Regions from separate parts of the Homo sapiens genome. Here region 2 is linked to region 1. The links come from fine-mapping of genetic effects on gene expression. Tissue or cell type: whole blood. Region 1 holds a variant in brackets; the other region holds the start of a gene. All regions are shown on one strand. Distances are from middle to middle.

Region 1 (7,890 bases):
TTCATGTGCAAGTTTTTGTTTAAACTTAATGCTTTCAGGCCGGGCGCGGTGGCTCATGCCTATAATCCCAGCACTTTGGGAGGCCGAGGCAGGCAGATTACTTGAGGTCGGGAGTTCGAGACCAGCCTGGTCAACGTGGTGAAACCCCATCTCTACTAAAAATGCAAAAAATAGCCAGGCATAGTGGCGTGGGCCTGTAATCCCAGCTACTCCGGAGGCTGAGGCAGGAGAATTGCTTGAACCTGGGAGGCGGAGGTTGAGTGAGCCGAGATCATGCCACTGCACCCCAGCCTAGGTGACAGAGCAAGACTCTGCCAGAAAAAAAAAACAGAAAAAACAAACCCAACTTAATACTTTCAGTACCCTTGGGTACACAACACTAGTTTTTAATAAAATTTTAAACAAAATTTGGAATGTTTTCATCTTTCTGGAGTCTTTCTAAAAAGATTTTTCTGGTGGCATACCTGTCGTACTGATGAAATAGAGGACCTCCTCATGCCAGGCATTTTTGGGCATTGCAGGTACAGATGTGCTGTCTGTGTCCCCAGGTGCCCCTCGTTCCGGCCGTGCTGGGGCAGCATCCTCAATGCCTAAAGAGGATTCATTGCTATCGTGGAGGTCAGGGCAGGCTGAGGCTGGCCTTGAAGGGTACGGGGGTGGAGGGGTAGGGCAGGGAGGACTCAGGTCTCGGACGTACCCACTGTGCCATTGGTCCATGGATCCTCAGGGAATGTGCGTTTTATGTTTTAGGCAATTCTGGTAAAGGTGGTGGATTTAGTTGCAATTGGATTCTTCATTTTTTGCCTTGGGTCTCACTGAGGAAACATGAAGAAGGGGTAGATGGCAGTGGCCAGGGTGGGGGTCCTGGGAATTCTGGTAGCTTCACCTTAATGTTTGTGATGCTGGGTGTACAGACAGCCTCCCACATGACCAAGGACACGCTCTTAGGTCCCTAAGACCCCAGAAGAATGGGCCGCTACTGCCAAGAAGTATGACATGCGTGTGGAAGACCATGAGCCTTACCCGGCTGGTGGCATGGGGTGTGGCAACTGCCGCAGCTCCCCGAACCATTGCAGTGGGAAAGGGGTACGTGCTGTGACTAAGACCACTGGACCCGACCCATCGCAGCGACAGGGGGTCCATGCTGTGTGACTGAGACCACTGGACCCCACCCATCGCAGCGGGAGGGGGGTCCATGCTGTGTGACTGGGACCACTGGATCCCACCCATCGCAGCGACAGGGGGTCCATGCTGTGTGACTGAGACCACTGGACCCCACCCATCGCAGCGGGAGGGGGGTCCATGCTGTGTGACTGGGACCACTGGACCCCACCCATCGCAGCGGGAGGGGGGTCCATGCTGTGTGACTGGGACCACTGGATCCCACCCATCGCAGCGACAGGGGGTCCATGCTGTGTGACTGAGACCACTGGATCCCACCCATCGCAGCGGGAGGGGGGTCCATGCTGTGTGACTGGGACCACTGGACCCGACCCATCGCAGCGGGAGGGGGGTCCATGCTGTGTGACTGGGACCACTGGATCCCACCCATCGCAGCGGGAGGGGGGTCCATGCTGTGTGACTGGGACCACTGGACCCGACCCATCGCAGCGGGAGGGGGGTCCATGCTGTGTGACTGGGACCACTGGACCCGACCCATCGCAGCGGGAGGGGGGTCCATGCTGTGTGACTGGGACCACTGGATCCCACCCATCGCAGCGGGAGGGGCGTCCATGCTGTGTGACTGGGACCACTGGACCCGACCCATCGCAGCGGGAGGGGGGTCCATGCTGTGTGACTGGGACCACTGGACCCGACCCATCGCAGCGGGAGGGGGGTCCATGCTGTGTGACTGGGACCACTGGATCCCACCCATCGCAGCGGGAGGGGGGTCCATGATGTGTGACTGGGACCACTGGATCCCGTCCATCGCAGCGGGAGGGGGGTCCATGCTGTGTGACTGGGACCACTGGATCCCGCCCATCGCAGCGGGAGGGGGGTCCATGCTGTGTGACTGGGACCACTGGACCCGACCCATCGCAGCGGGAGGGGGGTCCATGCTGTGTGACTGGGACCACTGGACCCGACCCATCGCAGTGGGAGGGGGTCCATGCTGTGACTGGGACCACCTGGCCTGAGGTTGGACTGGTGAAATGACAATGTTGGCACCTACATGTGTGTCAGGATCCATGTGGATATGTCCCGCACACCTGCTTCTTGGAATATTGTGTAAGCAGCTCTTCAGCTTCACGGCCTTCATGATCGTGTTCTGGGTGGGGAAGAATTAACCAGCCTACCAGCCCGTGGGGCCAAAGCAGTGTCCTTATAATCATCTGCACCTGGAACCAGGTGGCGATCCCACCGTAGAACCTGTGGCTCACAGGATCTGAGGTGGCTTCGAGGGCTTCTCTGCCCTCTAGGATTCCCTCATCCTTAGAAATTTAACCTTAATGAAATCCCTAATAAAACTCAGTGCTGTGGGGGAAAAACATCTCAGGTCAGGGGAGCAAATGGGAGGTCTAACAGGATGTGACCAGAGCTGGTTGTCTCCAATGGCTCTGCCCCGAGTGTGGTGCCTCTGCAGGGGAGGCCGTTAGCCCTGCCCCGAGTGTGGGTGCTGCTTTGGGAGGGGAGGCAAATTTGATCTCTGTCCGGTCTCTTAACGGGCTTCTAGGGGTCTCCTGCAGCTCTCGTCAGCCTGGCCTGGGAGCCTCCCCTCCTCTGCCGTCCCCACCCCATGCTGTTGGGTCAGCAGGATATCCCAGCCTTGGGGCTGGAGCCAGCTGTGGCTGCCCAGGGACTTGCAGGCAGGTGAGGCGTGCCACCTTCTGGCCAGGCTGGCTGTGGGAGAGGCAGCCTCCTGGTGAGGGGCTGTGGGCCACTGCGTTCAGGCTGCCTTGGAGGGCTCCACGGTGTCCCCTGGGTGCAGGGCTCCGAGTCCTTCTCGGCTTGGGAGGGTCTTGTGGCCACATGTGTCTAGTTCTGCAGTTTCTTTGTTGTGGGTTCGGTTCTTTACTTTTTTTTTTTTTTTTTTTGATGATCTTGTTGGTTTTCTCTAGATTGTTCCCAAGTTTTCTGTTCTTCCATCCCAAGTGGGAGACACGTGTTGCACAGCCTGCATTTGGAATACCCAGAGGGTGGGTGGGCGGGACGGCTCGCTGCCCCATTCCCCTCCTAGCTGCTGGGACAGGTGGGAATTCCTGTAGCAAAGTCAAACCAGCCAGGAGTGGGGAAGTGCTTTTTATTTTGACATCTCCAAGTTCCACGTTGAGGTGGAGAGACATTCGTTTTTCCCCTTCCTCCCGAGGTGTAAAACGGTCTTCTCAAAGGCTTAGGAGAGCCGAGCCCTGTGCCACCCCCCGGCATATGCTGGCAAAGAGTGAGGCGTGCTGTCCTGCCGTTTAGGGCAGAGCACCCAGGCGGTTTGGCAGCAGCACCTCAGAACTATTCAGAGATTTGCCCTCAGCAAGAGTGAGCAATTGTCTGACGCAGCCGGCTGAAATCCCTGGGAAGGGAATGAATGAAACTGCCGTGAAGCAACGCCTGGCGGGGCCGGGCTTCTGGCAGCTCCTGGGGCCAGCACGTCCCTTCCAGAGCGTCTGAAGCCCTGGGCGGCTGCTGGAGCATCTCGAGTCTTTCCAGAGTCATGTGTGTTGTTTCCTTCTGTCTCTTGGAAGGGTCCGTTTGGTCTGATCCAGGTTGCCTCAGCAGGAGGAAGTCGTGCTGGGTGCTGAGCGGGTGGGAGGTTTCACCTTGGGCTTGGCAGAGCTGCAGGCAGAGGCCGGGCGCCTGCTGTACATGATGAAACTTGCAGGTGGATTCTGCTTAGGGTTTCATCTGTTTCCTTTGATGCACTTGGCTTCATTGTCATCCACCTGTTCATTACTGTGGGCGAAACAGGTGAACTCTCAACAAGTACCATCGAAACCAGGATTTGATCTTCATTTCCCTCGAAGCGTAGTTCCCTTGCAGTGAGGGTTTTTAACTCCTGTGGGAGGGAAGCAAGTGTTTGGCAATGTAATTTCCCTGGAAGGCCCCTGTACTTCAGCTTTAAAAACACGCTTTGGTTTAGTCCCAATTTAAGCATTAAGATTAATGCAAATTGAGGAAATTCAAGGAAGGAGAAAAACACATTAAAAATGGAAAATGGGCTGGGCACAGTGGCTCATGCCGGTAATCCCAGCGCTTTGGGAGGCCGAGGCAGGTGGATCACTTGAGGCCAGGAGTTTGATACCAGCCTGGCCAACATGGTGAAACCCTGTCTCTACTAAAAATACAAAAAATTAGTTGGGCATGGTGGTGCGC[G/A]CCTGTAATCCCAGCTACTTGGGAGGCTGAGGCAGGAAAATCGCTTGAACCCGGGAGGTGGAGGTTGCAGTGAGCCGACATGGCGCCACTGCATTCCAGCCTGGGCAACAGAGCAAGACTCCATCTAAAAAAAAATTTACAAAAAGGAAAATGGCTGTCATTTCATGTGTGACTCTGCTTGCTGATTGATAGTTGTGCTCTCTTGGTTTCTAGTGCTCTGATTGGAAGATTGTCGACTGTGTGGAGTGGGTTTCTCCCTGTGTGTTCTCACAATGGCTGGGAGGCGGCGGCGGGGCTGGGGGACTCGGACTGCGAGACGGGGCTGTTGACTATGAAAGTGGTAATAGGATGCTCTTCCCCTTATCGGCTGTTAGGCTCGAGTCTCCCCTTTGCAGTGCGGTTTCTTTTTATTTTTATCATTGACAAAAGCACAACTCTTGTTAAAGGATAAAATAGTCACACACAACAGCATTAAAAACCAAGAAAGCCAAAGAACGCTGGCACTGTCAGCCTCACTCCCAGCTCCCGCTCGGCCCTTGTGAAGAGAGGTGCTGAAGCCACTCTGCTTTTTTATAGTTAATAAAAGCAGCCAGGTCCCCAAGTAGGAGTGGTTGTGGCCAAGAGTGTGTGGGCCGGGAACCAGGGCTTGAGCTGCTGTGAGCTGTGCCCAGGCCCTTTGCTGACTCCGTCTCTCCTGTGACCTGAGGCCAGGGTGAGCACCAGCGCCCGCCCCACCTGGGAGGGAAGCAGCAGACCTCTCACCGCAGAGGCTGGTGTGAGGCTAATTAGCACAGTCAGTCTTTGAAGATGAAAGAAGACAGCTGATTATCTAAAACATTTCACATTTAGGCTTTGATTTCTCTTCAGATTTGGGGAACAGCACCCTACTGTTTCATTTAGGGTTCAGTGTGGCCAGAGGAAGATGACCCACGTGGTCCTTTTTAGTTGTAGTGCTCTCTTGGGGCAAGGTTTTGGATGGAGAAAATAGGACAAGAGCAGTTTGAATGTGGGTACTTTCCAGAGATCATGCTCCTGTAGCATTTGGGTGAAACGAGGTACCCCAGGCCACGCTGGTTCGGTCTCCTCGTGGCGTTAAGGAAAGACCTGGAGCAGCCAGCTCCTAACACTCATTTCCCATCACTCAGCATTTTATGTGGGGCGGGCACAGTGCCGTGAGTCTTACAGAAACCTGCATGGTGAGCCGCACGCCTTTGAGTCCCCATCAGCCCTGGCCCATCCCTGCTGAGGTGGCGCGACCTGCTCACAGACGTGTGCTCACAGGCAGCCCGTCGCGGGGTCATGTGCTAGACGGGGAGGGGGCTTGGCGGGTCACCAGCCTCACCCCGCTCAGTTCTTAGATGAGGAAGAGACAGGCAGAGAGCTGGGCTGGGCTGCTGCTGAGTGGGCTAGAGCTGGGTCTCAGTGGCCCCTGCCCCAGTCGTCCTGACCTGTGGCCCCTGTGCAGGTTGGGGTGCCCCTGCCCTCTCCCCTGCCCCGCCCTCACCTGGCTCACAGACCCGTGATGCCTCACTGCCCACGCAGTCACCTTAGAGGCACCTTCCCTCTAAGGCAGATGTCCCTCAGGCTTTGGTCCTGGCTGTTGATATCTCAGCTCTGATTCACCCTTGACCTTTATTACCTGATTTCTGTCCTTGGTTCTCGAGCCCTCCTTCTGTGGACCCGTTGGGTACACGTGTGACACTTCAGAACCCGCAAGTCCCAGGTCACACCTGTTGTACCATCACTTTCCCCTCCTGGCCTGTTTACCCGGGAGCCCAGCAACAAATGGGAGCTTCTGTGCTGCTGTCCGTGCATACGGCCCAGGAGCCGGGCTCATCCCCGAGACGCCGTGTTCCCTCCCGCTGTCCGCTCACACCTGCCTGTGTGGACGTGGCTCTGACATGTCTCCTTCCTGGTTCATTGCTCATCTGTTCTCATGTGGCTGCGCCGCCACCCTGTCCTGGGGGTCCTTGTCCCAGCACGTGGCTCTGTGCTTCACGTCATCCTGAGTCTGTCCCGCTCTGCCGCCTGGTCCAGGTGGGAGCCATTTCCTTCTGTGAAGTGTTCCCTCTGGAGGCCCTGGGCTCCCCGACTACCCTCCCGCCTCTCCTGTGGCTGTCGGCTGCAGTAAAGGTGCTGGTGGAGGGTGTGAGCCATCCATTCATAGAGTGCCAGACTCTGTCCCATGCTGCCTCTGTGCCCTTGATCCTGGCAGCACACCTGCTGTCCTGTGGCCTGCGTAAAGGGTGGCCTCGGAAGCCTGTGGCCTGGGTAAAGCGTGGCCTCGGAAGCTTGTGGCCTGGGTAGTGGGTGGCCTCATCTTGGCCTCGGAAGCAGGAGGGCTCAGGCTGTGGCCCACGCCTGGGGTTCCCCATCCCCCCGTGTGTCCTGGTGTCTTTGCTTGGCTCGCCGGCCTCCATGGGCTCCCCAGGTGGCAGGTGGCTCTCAGCCATGCTCTCCGTCCTCATGCTTGTTTCTGCCCTGGCAGAGCTGCTCAGTGGCCAGCCCGTGGGACCCCTGTGCACCCTGCCGCCCCCAGCATATGTCAGCAGCGCCGTCCGGGGGAGATGTGGCATCAGCACAGCCTTGTCCTTGTCTCTGCCCGTTCTTCCTTCCTTGCCTCTATGTGTCTGCTTTTTTCTCTTCCACATGGTGTCCACAGTGGATAACCACATCCACTGGCCTCCTGGTTGGTGGATCCTCCTCCTGCTGGGCTCAGAGCTGTGCCACCCCCACCTGCACTGCAGAGAAGCTCAGACCCCTCTCTGACCTCAGACGCTGGAGCCTGAGCCCCCTGCTTCCCAGGCCAATGCCCCTTCAGGTCCCTGCAAAGCCACTGCTCTTTGTGGTCTCCCTGCCGCCGTTGCCCTCCCTTTGCCGCTGAGCCCGTGGGCTGCTTGGTGGCTTGGGAGCTGCATACAATTCTATTTTGTCTGGTTTGTTTTCAGGCTTTCTGTGGCAGGAATTGTGTCTCTTGCATCTTTTTTTTTTTTTTTTTTTAGACGGAGTCTCGCTCTGTTGCCCTGGCTGGAGTGCAGTGGCGCGATCTCGGCTCACTGCAAGCTCCGCCTCCCGGGTTCACGCCATTCTCCTGGCTCAGCCTCCTGAGTAGCTGGGACTACAGGCACCCTCCACCACGCCTGGCTAATTTTTTTGTATTTTAGTAGAGATGGGGTTTCACCGTGTTAGCCAGGATGGTCTCGATCTCCTGACCTCGTGATCTGCCTGCCTCGGCCTCCCAAAGTGCTGGGATTACAGGCGTGAACCACTGTGCCCGGCCATGGATCATTAACCTCTTTTCTAGCATCTTACCTCTGTGGTGGTTCACTTTTGCGAGCTTTTGCTGGGCCTTGGAAGGTGCGTGGGCTCGCTGCTCCTCTCTTCTGTGGGAACTGTTGCCTTTGGGCAGGGGGCACACCCCAGAGGTGGTCACACACACCTGAACGGGAGCACAGTCATAAGTCCCTGTCATGCAAAGATGGGCTGTGCAGAATGAGCTCGGAATAGCAGCCAGAAGGCTCAGTGATGGGGGAGTTGTTTAAGCTGGAATACTGTAATGCTGCTGGCTGTTTATGGCTGTGAGGT
Region 2 (7,890 bases), 52 kb before region 1:
GAAGAGGTTTGTTCTCTTTGGGCAGCCGTGAACATCGCTAGGACCTCCGGGGAGGAAGTCCAGGGAAATGGTAGTTGCCCTGAGCTCCCATCCAGGACTCTCAGTTCTCATCTTTGGGATCTTGGGGGCAATGTGGCTCCACTTTTTATTTCTTACTGTAAGTGGGATTATATCAAAACACCTAATCTAACACAGTCAGAGCGTCAGCTTTTCCACAGAAGTGAATCTTTAGATACCTGAAGACAAGCCTTCTGTCCCAAAGCGTTTTACTTTTCATCCTTTTAATGAAAGTGCGCCTAAAGCGGCCAGGCGCAGTGGCTCACGCCTGTCATCCCAGCACTCTGGGAGGCCGAGGTGGGCGGATCACCTGAGGTCAGGAGTTCGAGACCAGCCTGGCAAACATGGCAAAACCCTGTCTCTACCATAAATATGAAAATTAACTGGGCGTGGTAACGTGCGCCTGCAATCTCAGCTACTCGGGAGGCTGAGGCAGGAGAATTGCTTGAACTCGGGAGGCGGAGGTTGCAGTGAGCCGAGATCGTGTCACTGCACTCCAACTTGGAGACAGGGCAAGACTCCATCTCGGGGTGGGGAAGACCTGTATCTTGGAAAGATGATGTAGGGGTGCACTGTAAGGGGTATATTGGAGGGGGAATTCCAGGCAGCAGGGAGAGGGCTGGCGGGGGCTTTCCTGTGAGTGGGTAAGCAGGACTGTGAGAAGGGCAAAGGCCCAGGAGCCATGGAGGGGCCAGGACAGGGTGGTGAGAGAGAGGGAGCAGTGCCACCGGCTTGTCCACGTATTTCACTGAAGCCTGTGCCACGTCTGCACATCCCACCTCCACCCATCCACGCCTCTGCCTGAACCACTCCATTAACCAGCTGGCCTCTGCTTGGGGTGGCCCAGGGGAGCCGAGAGGAGATGGGGAGGGTGGGTGAGGTTAGGATATCATTCTCAGACTTCCTTCATCAAGCCCACACCCCAGGCCTGGGTGGCGCCAGCTCTGTAGCCAGGCTCAGCTCTGTCCTGTGGTCTCCCCACACCCTGCCCATGTCTGTGCCAGGCCCCTTTCTTGGGTCCTCCTTGATTCCTCCAGCTTGAGGTCCACATCCCACCTTTACTCCGTCCACGCCTCTCCTCTGGGCTGATGGTAGGATCACAAGCATGGGTGGCCCCGACACCTGACCAGCACCGCAGACCAGGCCCTGTACTAAGACATCCAGGCAGATGGGGAAAAAGATGGGTGGTACCACTCCCAGAACGGGAAACCGGACAGAGGGCAGGTTCTGTTTTGTTTGTGACGGAGTCTTGTTCTGTCACCCAGGCTGGAATGCAGTGGCGTGATCTCGGCTCAGTACGACCTCCACTCCCAGGCTCAAGCAATTCTCCTGCCTCAGCGTCCCAAGTAGCTGGGATTACAGGTGTGTGCCACCATGCCCGACTAAAATTTTTTTGTATTTTTCGTAGAGATAGGGTTTCACCAAGTTGATCAGGCTGGTCTTGAACTCCTGACCTTGTGATCTACCCACCTCGGCCTCCCAAAGAGCTGGGATTACAGGCATGAGCCACTGCAACCAGCCGATACAGGTCGTTTTAAAAACAGTATTATTTGCACACCATACAATTTACTCTACTAATTCTCTAAGAAACTTGGGATCACTTAACTGCCCTGCCCTTGAATCTTCAACAGCTCTTAACCCCCCACATAGAGGACTTCCTAGCCTGGTGCCTGCATATCTGTTTCTTCATTCAGGCACCTCTTCTCACTGAGAGACCTGAGCACTCGTATGGTTCTCTGTGTGACGCCTAATATCTGACTGTAGACTCATGAGTTGTATGAAGAAAAATTACAAGGGGCTTTGAGGCAGTAACAGAGAGGACTGACTCTAGACCACAGTGTTGGAATTCCAAAAAAGAGAACCAAGAATACAGAGGGAGAACGCCATGAAGGGCTAAAAGCTGTCCCAGGATTGGAGGACCCACCAGTCCTGTTCAGGGGATGACAGGAGACTCACCCTGACACCTCCCTGGGGAATTTTTCACTGGTGTCACAGAGAAGACCCTAAAAGCCTGCAGAGATAGAACAGTTTCCACACAAAGAATAAGAACTGAAATGGCCATAAGCTTCTCAACATCAAAACTGGAGCTGGCAGCTTCTTGGTTCCTAAAGAACATGGTCTGATCTCCAAGCTGGAATTTGATACCCAGCCAAACTGTCAACTAGGAAGAAAGAAATTTACAGACGTACGAGAGCTCACACTGGCCTGTCAGGAACCTTCTGTCAAGATGCGATAGCAGGGTGGGCTTCAGATGAGAAAAAGCCAGGGACTGGCACATGCCCTTTCTGCAGACACCACAGTCATCCTCCTGTCCTACCTGCTGTTCTGCGGCAGCCCTGCCACTCCTGTCAAGAGGTGGCTGCTTGGCCGGGTGCCATGTGTAATCCCAGCACATTGGGAGGCTGAGGCAGGCGGATCACCTGAGGCCAGGAGTTTGAGACCATCCTGGCCAACATGGTGAAACCCCGTCTCTACTAAAAATACAAAAATTAGCGGGGCGTGGTGACGCGTGCCTGTAATCCCAGCTACTCAGGAAGCTGAGGTAGGAGAATCGCTTGAACCCGGGAGGTGGAGGTTGCAGTGAGCCGAGATTGCACTTCAGCCTGGGTGACAGAGCAAGACCCTGTTTCAAAAAAAAAAAAGAGGTGGCTGCGGATCCCCTTGCCTTGATTGCGGCTTTGGAGACCGATGGAAGGAGGTGGAAATGATGGTGTGTGGCTTCTGAGGCCAGGTCAGAAAAGGCCTTTGCTTCTGCCAGCTCTCTGGGAGCTCTGGCTCTCCCAGTGCTCACTCTTGGAACCTGGCCTCCATGTTCAGGGAAGCTCAGGCCACACCAGGAGGCCACATGGACATGTCCTGCTTGACAGTGACCGCTAAGCCCAGGTTCCAGTGATCCTGGCCGAGGTGCCAGATGTAGGAGTTAAGGAGCCTCCCGATGACCCCAGCCCAGCTGAGCAAGTGGGCAGGACCGCGGGGATAGGCAGCTCCCAAAGGCTCCCTCCCCGCGGCAGGACCCCTGCATCTCTGTGGGAAAAGACAATTGTTGGGGCCCTAAAAAAAACAGATTTATTGATTAAAACCTCATGCATGGCCGGGCGTGGTGGTTCACGGCTGTAATCCCAGCACTTTGGGAGGCTGAGGCACGCAGGTCACCTGGCCAACATGGGGAAACCCCATGTCTACTAAAACTACAAAATGTAGCTGGGCAGGCCGGGCCGGTGGCTTGACGCCTGTAATCCCAGCACTTTGGGAGGCCGAGCGGGTGGATCACGAGGTTAGGAGATTGAGACCATCCTGGCTCACAGGGTGAAACCCTGTCTCCACTAAAACATACAAAAATATTAGCCGGGCGTGGTGGCGGGCGCCTGTAGTCCCAGCTACTCGGGAGGCTGAGGCAGGAGAATGGCTTGAACCCGGGAGGCGGAGCTTGCAGTGAGCCGAGATCGCGCCACTGCACTGCAGCCTGGGAGACAGAGACTCCATCTCTTAAAAACACAAAAAACAAACAATAAAAAAACCTCACGTCAAATGACTTCAGCACGGACTGGGCTCAGGTGCGCACCTGCTCGTGTGCACGCGTGTGTACCCACGTGTATGCATGCATGGGCGCGCGTGGGCATTCCTGTGTCTCAAGTCCCTTTCCCAGGACATCCTGGAATCAGCAGCCCCACCCTGGGCCGGGTCAGCGCGTGCCATCGGAGCCCCCACGTCAGCCTCTCTCTCCGATCGGCACCTGGCGTCCCAGTGCGCAAGCCCCACGTCATCACGGGGGCCGCTGGGCCCGGCCTGGTCTGCAGTGTGGGAAGCCGGCCAGGCCTGTGACCAGCGCCCGGGCCGAGGGCCGGACCTGCGTCCGCTGCGGGGCAGGGATACCGGGTCCCTGCAGGGAGCTCAAGCCCCAGCGCGCCCGCGAAGAGCTGCGCGGACTCCCGGCTGCTTCCCCCGAATCCCGGGCGCAGGAAGCGCGAAGCCGGACGAACGCGGGGAGCGCGCGGCGAGCCCGCCTGAGGCCGCCCCTCCCGCCGCCCGGGGTCACGCGCCGCGCGCTCCCGCCCCGCCCCGCCCCGCAGCGCCTCAGCCGACAGGGGCTTCCGAGCGAGCAGAGTCCCGCGCCCCGCACTCCATGGAGCAGCTGCTGCGCGCCGAGCTGCGCACCGCGACCCTGCGGGCCTTCGGCGGCCCCGGCGCCGGCTGCATCAGCGAGGGCCGAGCCTACGACACGGACGCAGGCCCAGTGTTCGTCAAAGTCAACCGCAGGACGCAGGTGCTGGCCCGTGCGCAGGCGGGGGCTCTGCGGGTCTCTGCGGGGCCTGGGAAGGCGGAGGGGTCGGGGGCAGGCGCATTTCCTGGGGCTGGGCCTGGGGAGGGGTCAGCTTTGGCCCTTGGGAGGTGGCACCTGCTGGGTGAGCCCGGCTCAAGCGTTCTGTGAAGGTTTGTGTCTGCACGATCCGTGACCTTCCTTTGGCCTCCATGCGCAGCGCACAGGCTTCTAGGGGTGGTTTTAACTTTCCTATCCAGCAAGCGTCGGGGGATGTGAGGCTTGGGGTCCTTGGCTCAGCTCTGGGCCGCCCCTCTCAGCCCACCGTCCTCCTGGCAGTGGGAAAGAAGCAGAGACATGGCTGGGCCCCTGGCAGGGACCCCACGGGCCAGGCCAGCGTTCTCCTTCCCACAGGCCTTGTCTGTGTTTAGACCTGATTTCTATCTCCTGCTGAAAATAGTTCTGTTTAAGAATGTATGGAAGGCCGGGCGCGGTGGTTCACACCTGTAATCCCATCACTTTGGGAGGCCGAGGTGAGTGGATCCCTGAGGTCAGGAGTTCGAGACCATCCTGGCCAACATGGTGAAACCCCGTCTCTACCAAAAAATGCAATAATTAGCCGGATGTGGTGCCACTGGCCTGTAATCCCAGCTACTCGGGAGGCTGAGGCAGGAGAATTGCTTGAACCCAGGAGATGGAGGTTGCAGTGAGCCAAGATCGCGCCATTGCACTCCAGCCTGGGCAACAAGAGGGAAACTCCGTCTCAAAAAAAAAAAAGTATGGAAAATGTTAACGGAGGAAGTGGAGAAGGTTAGCTTCAGCCTTGAGAGCCGGCAGGTGGAGAAAGGCAGGCCTGGGTGCCCTCCCGGCCCGAGTGGGCTCAGAAGGCCCTGCACACTCTGGTGGGGGAGCTCTCTGAGGGGCAGCAGGGGTCCTGGTGGGGAGTGCTGGCAGGAGGAACACCAGAGCCATGCAGCCTGGGCGTGCGATCGGATCCTCCGGCATCACCTGCTCTGCCGGCTCAGAACCAAATCCCTCAAAGTGGGGAGTCCTACTCACAGGGAAGCAGTTTTTGGTTCAGGCTTCCCACGGGCTCTGGGAAACTTCCTCAGCTGGTCCTGAAAGCTCTGCAGGGTGAGACCCCTCCTTCCCTCCCACCCCCACGAGGGGCCGGCACATAGTAGCTGCTCAGTCCATGCATAAGAGCAGGTGATGCTGGGGCCCCTGGGGCTTAGCAGCCCCAAGGCCGGGAGTTCCTGGCCTGGTGCATGGGGGGCTCGCCCTGGAGCAGGGCTGGGGTGTGCCGGCCGCCCTCCCACCTGTGGACACTCACACCCACCCTCGGTGCAGGCTGGCCAGGGCTGCCAGGCTGGGGAGGCTGTGCCTGGGCTTTCCCTGGGGTACTTTGAAGGAAAGGGCGTTCTGTTCGTGTGCACCAGCAGATGCTTTGGTCTCATTCATGAGGTTTGATTTTTTTAAACATGCAGTCCTACACTTTGGGCGACTGAGGAAAGGTGGATCACTTGAGGCCAGGAGTTTGAGACCAGCCTGGCCATCATGGTGAAATTCCATCTCTTTTTTTTTGAGACGGACTCTTGCTCTGTCGCCCAGGCTGGATCTCGGCTCACTGCAAGCTGCGCCTCCCGGTTCACTCCATTCTCCTGCCTCAGCCTCCCGAGTAGCTGGGACTACAGGTGCCCGCCACCTTGCCTGGCTAATTTTTTGTATTTTTAGTAGAGACGAGGTTTCACCGTGTTAGCCAGGATGGTCTCAATCTCCTGACCTTGTGATCCGCCCACCCCGGCCTCCCAAAGTGCTGGGATTACAGGTGCGAGCCACCACGCACGGCGGTGGAACTCCATCTCTAGTAAAAATACAGAAAAACACAGCGGGGTGGGGTGGCCCACACCTGTAATCCCAGCTACTCAGGAGGCCGAAGCAGGAGAATCGTTTGAACCCAGGAGGCGGAGGCTGCCGTGAGCCGAGATCATGCCACTGCCCTCCAGCCTGGGTGACAGAGTGAGACCCTGTCTCAAAACAAACATGCAATTCTATAGGCCAAGGTATTCATGGACCACGTTCGTCAATGCATGTTTTCAACCAATGTGTACTGTACGTGAGGTGAGTGTTCACCTAACTGAAAACTGGAATGTTTGTGGGAATATTTCAGAAACAGGAAGGCCCAGGTCCCACGGGAGGCGTTGGGGGCCGGCCGGGTGTGCCGTGCCTTTTACCTTCCCAGCCCCTGCCCTGGACCTGAGGCCCCGCCTGATGGGCCCAGCCCTCTTCTTCCCTGCCTGACGTGTGTGCCCAAGTTAGCTCCAGTGAGGCCTCTGCTGTGGCTGCCCCACCCTAAGAGGCAGCAAGGAAGGTGGGTAGCCCGGGGGTCCAGCTCTGGACCTTGGTTCACTCACACCTCCCCACGCCCTCAGTGCTCCCGGGCACCCACACGTGGCCTGTGCATCCTCCTGTCACAGCAGCCTGCAGACCCCACACCCCTCACGGCCCAGGCTCAGCCTCAGCCTTGCAGCCTCTCGTCTCCGACGGGGGGCCCCTCTGCACCCTGCCCTCTGTGGTGGACGCCAGCTCCCAGCCAGAGCCAGCTATCAGTGAATGAAGGTCCTTGTGACTCCCACGTGGTAGCTTCTGTCAAGGGCCCAGTGGGCAGAGGCCCTGGCTGAGTCAACAAGGCTGACAAGGCTGTGTTCTGGATGCAGGCCCGGCAGATGTTTGAGGGGGAGGTGGCCAGCCTGGAGGCCCTCAGGAGCACGGGCCTGGTGCGGGTGCCGAGGCCCATGAAGGTCATCGACCTGCCGGGAGGTGGGGCCGCCTTTGTGATGGAGCATTTGAAGATGAAGAGCTTGAGCAGGTGAGTGTGTGTGAGACCCATATGCGCACATGTGTACAGGCAGAGAGAGACTCAGAGACAAACAGAGAGAGACAGAGAAAGGGATAGAGATGGGGAGGGAGACAGAAACAGGGAGAAGCCTGTGGCTGAGCCGTCCACACAACTGCCCGGTTATCAGAGGCAGGGCCAAGAGTTCCACCCTGCCATTCTTAATGGAGATAAAAAGTTACTGCTTTCTGGTATGTGACTGGTTTTCCTAGATAAGTTTGGCTGTAATGAGGCTGCATAAAATATATATATATACACATATATATATATATATATATATTTTTTTTTTTTTTGAAACACAGTCTCGCTCTGTTGCCCAGGCTAGAGTGCAGTGCAGTGGTGCAATCTCGGCTCACTGCAACTTCTGCCCCCAGGGTTCAAATGATTCTCCCACCTCAGCCTCCTGAGTAGCTGGGACTACAGGTGTCCACCACCACACCTGACTAATTTTTGTATTTTTAGTAGAGATGGGGTTTCACCATGTTGGCTGAGTTGGTCTCAAACTTCTGACTTCAAGTGATCCACCCACCTCGGCTTCCCAAAGTGCTGGGATAACAGGCCTGAGCCACCACACCTGCCCAAAATAAGTATATTTGAACCCATCATTTGCTTTGTACTTTATTTTTATTTTATTTTTCCAAGACAGAGTCTTGCTCTGTTTCCCAGGCTGGAGTGCAGT

Evidence for each region. PIP is the estimated chance that this variant, and not a neighbour inherited with it, causes the effect.
Region 2: it holds the start of FN3K, and the variant in region 1 is the best candidate, but not a certain one, in a credible set for the expression of FN3K in whole blood (TOPMed, PIP 0.53).

The regions. Positions count from the first base shown.
Region 1 is chr17:82,783,806-82,791,695 of GRCh38, forward strand. All of the region lies in intron 7 of TBCD (tubulin folding cofactor D), which reads left to right. Among named protein-coding and RNA genes, the nearest start is that of TBCD, 36 kb to the left of the region's middle. RefSeq lists enhancers at 3,708-3,757, 5,988-6,489. The variant G/A (reference allele first, on the strand shown) is at 4,306.
Region 2 is chr17:82,731,457-82,739,346 of GRCh38, forward strand. FN3K (fructosamine 3 kinase) reads left to right here and starts at 4,159. Exons shown (of 6, transcript NM_022158.4): 1 at 4,159-4,321; 2 at 7,033-7,184. The coding sequence starts at 4,181. RefSeq lists enhancers at 3,190-3,902, 4,615-5,327, 5,328-6,039.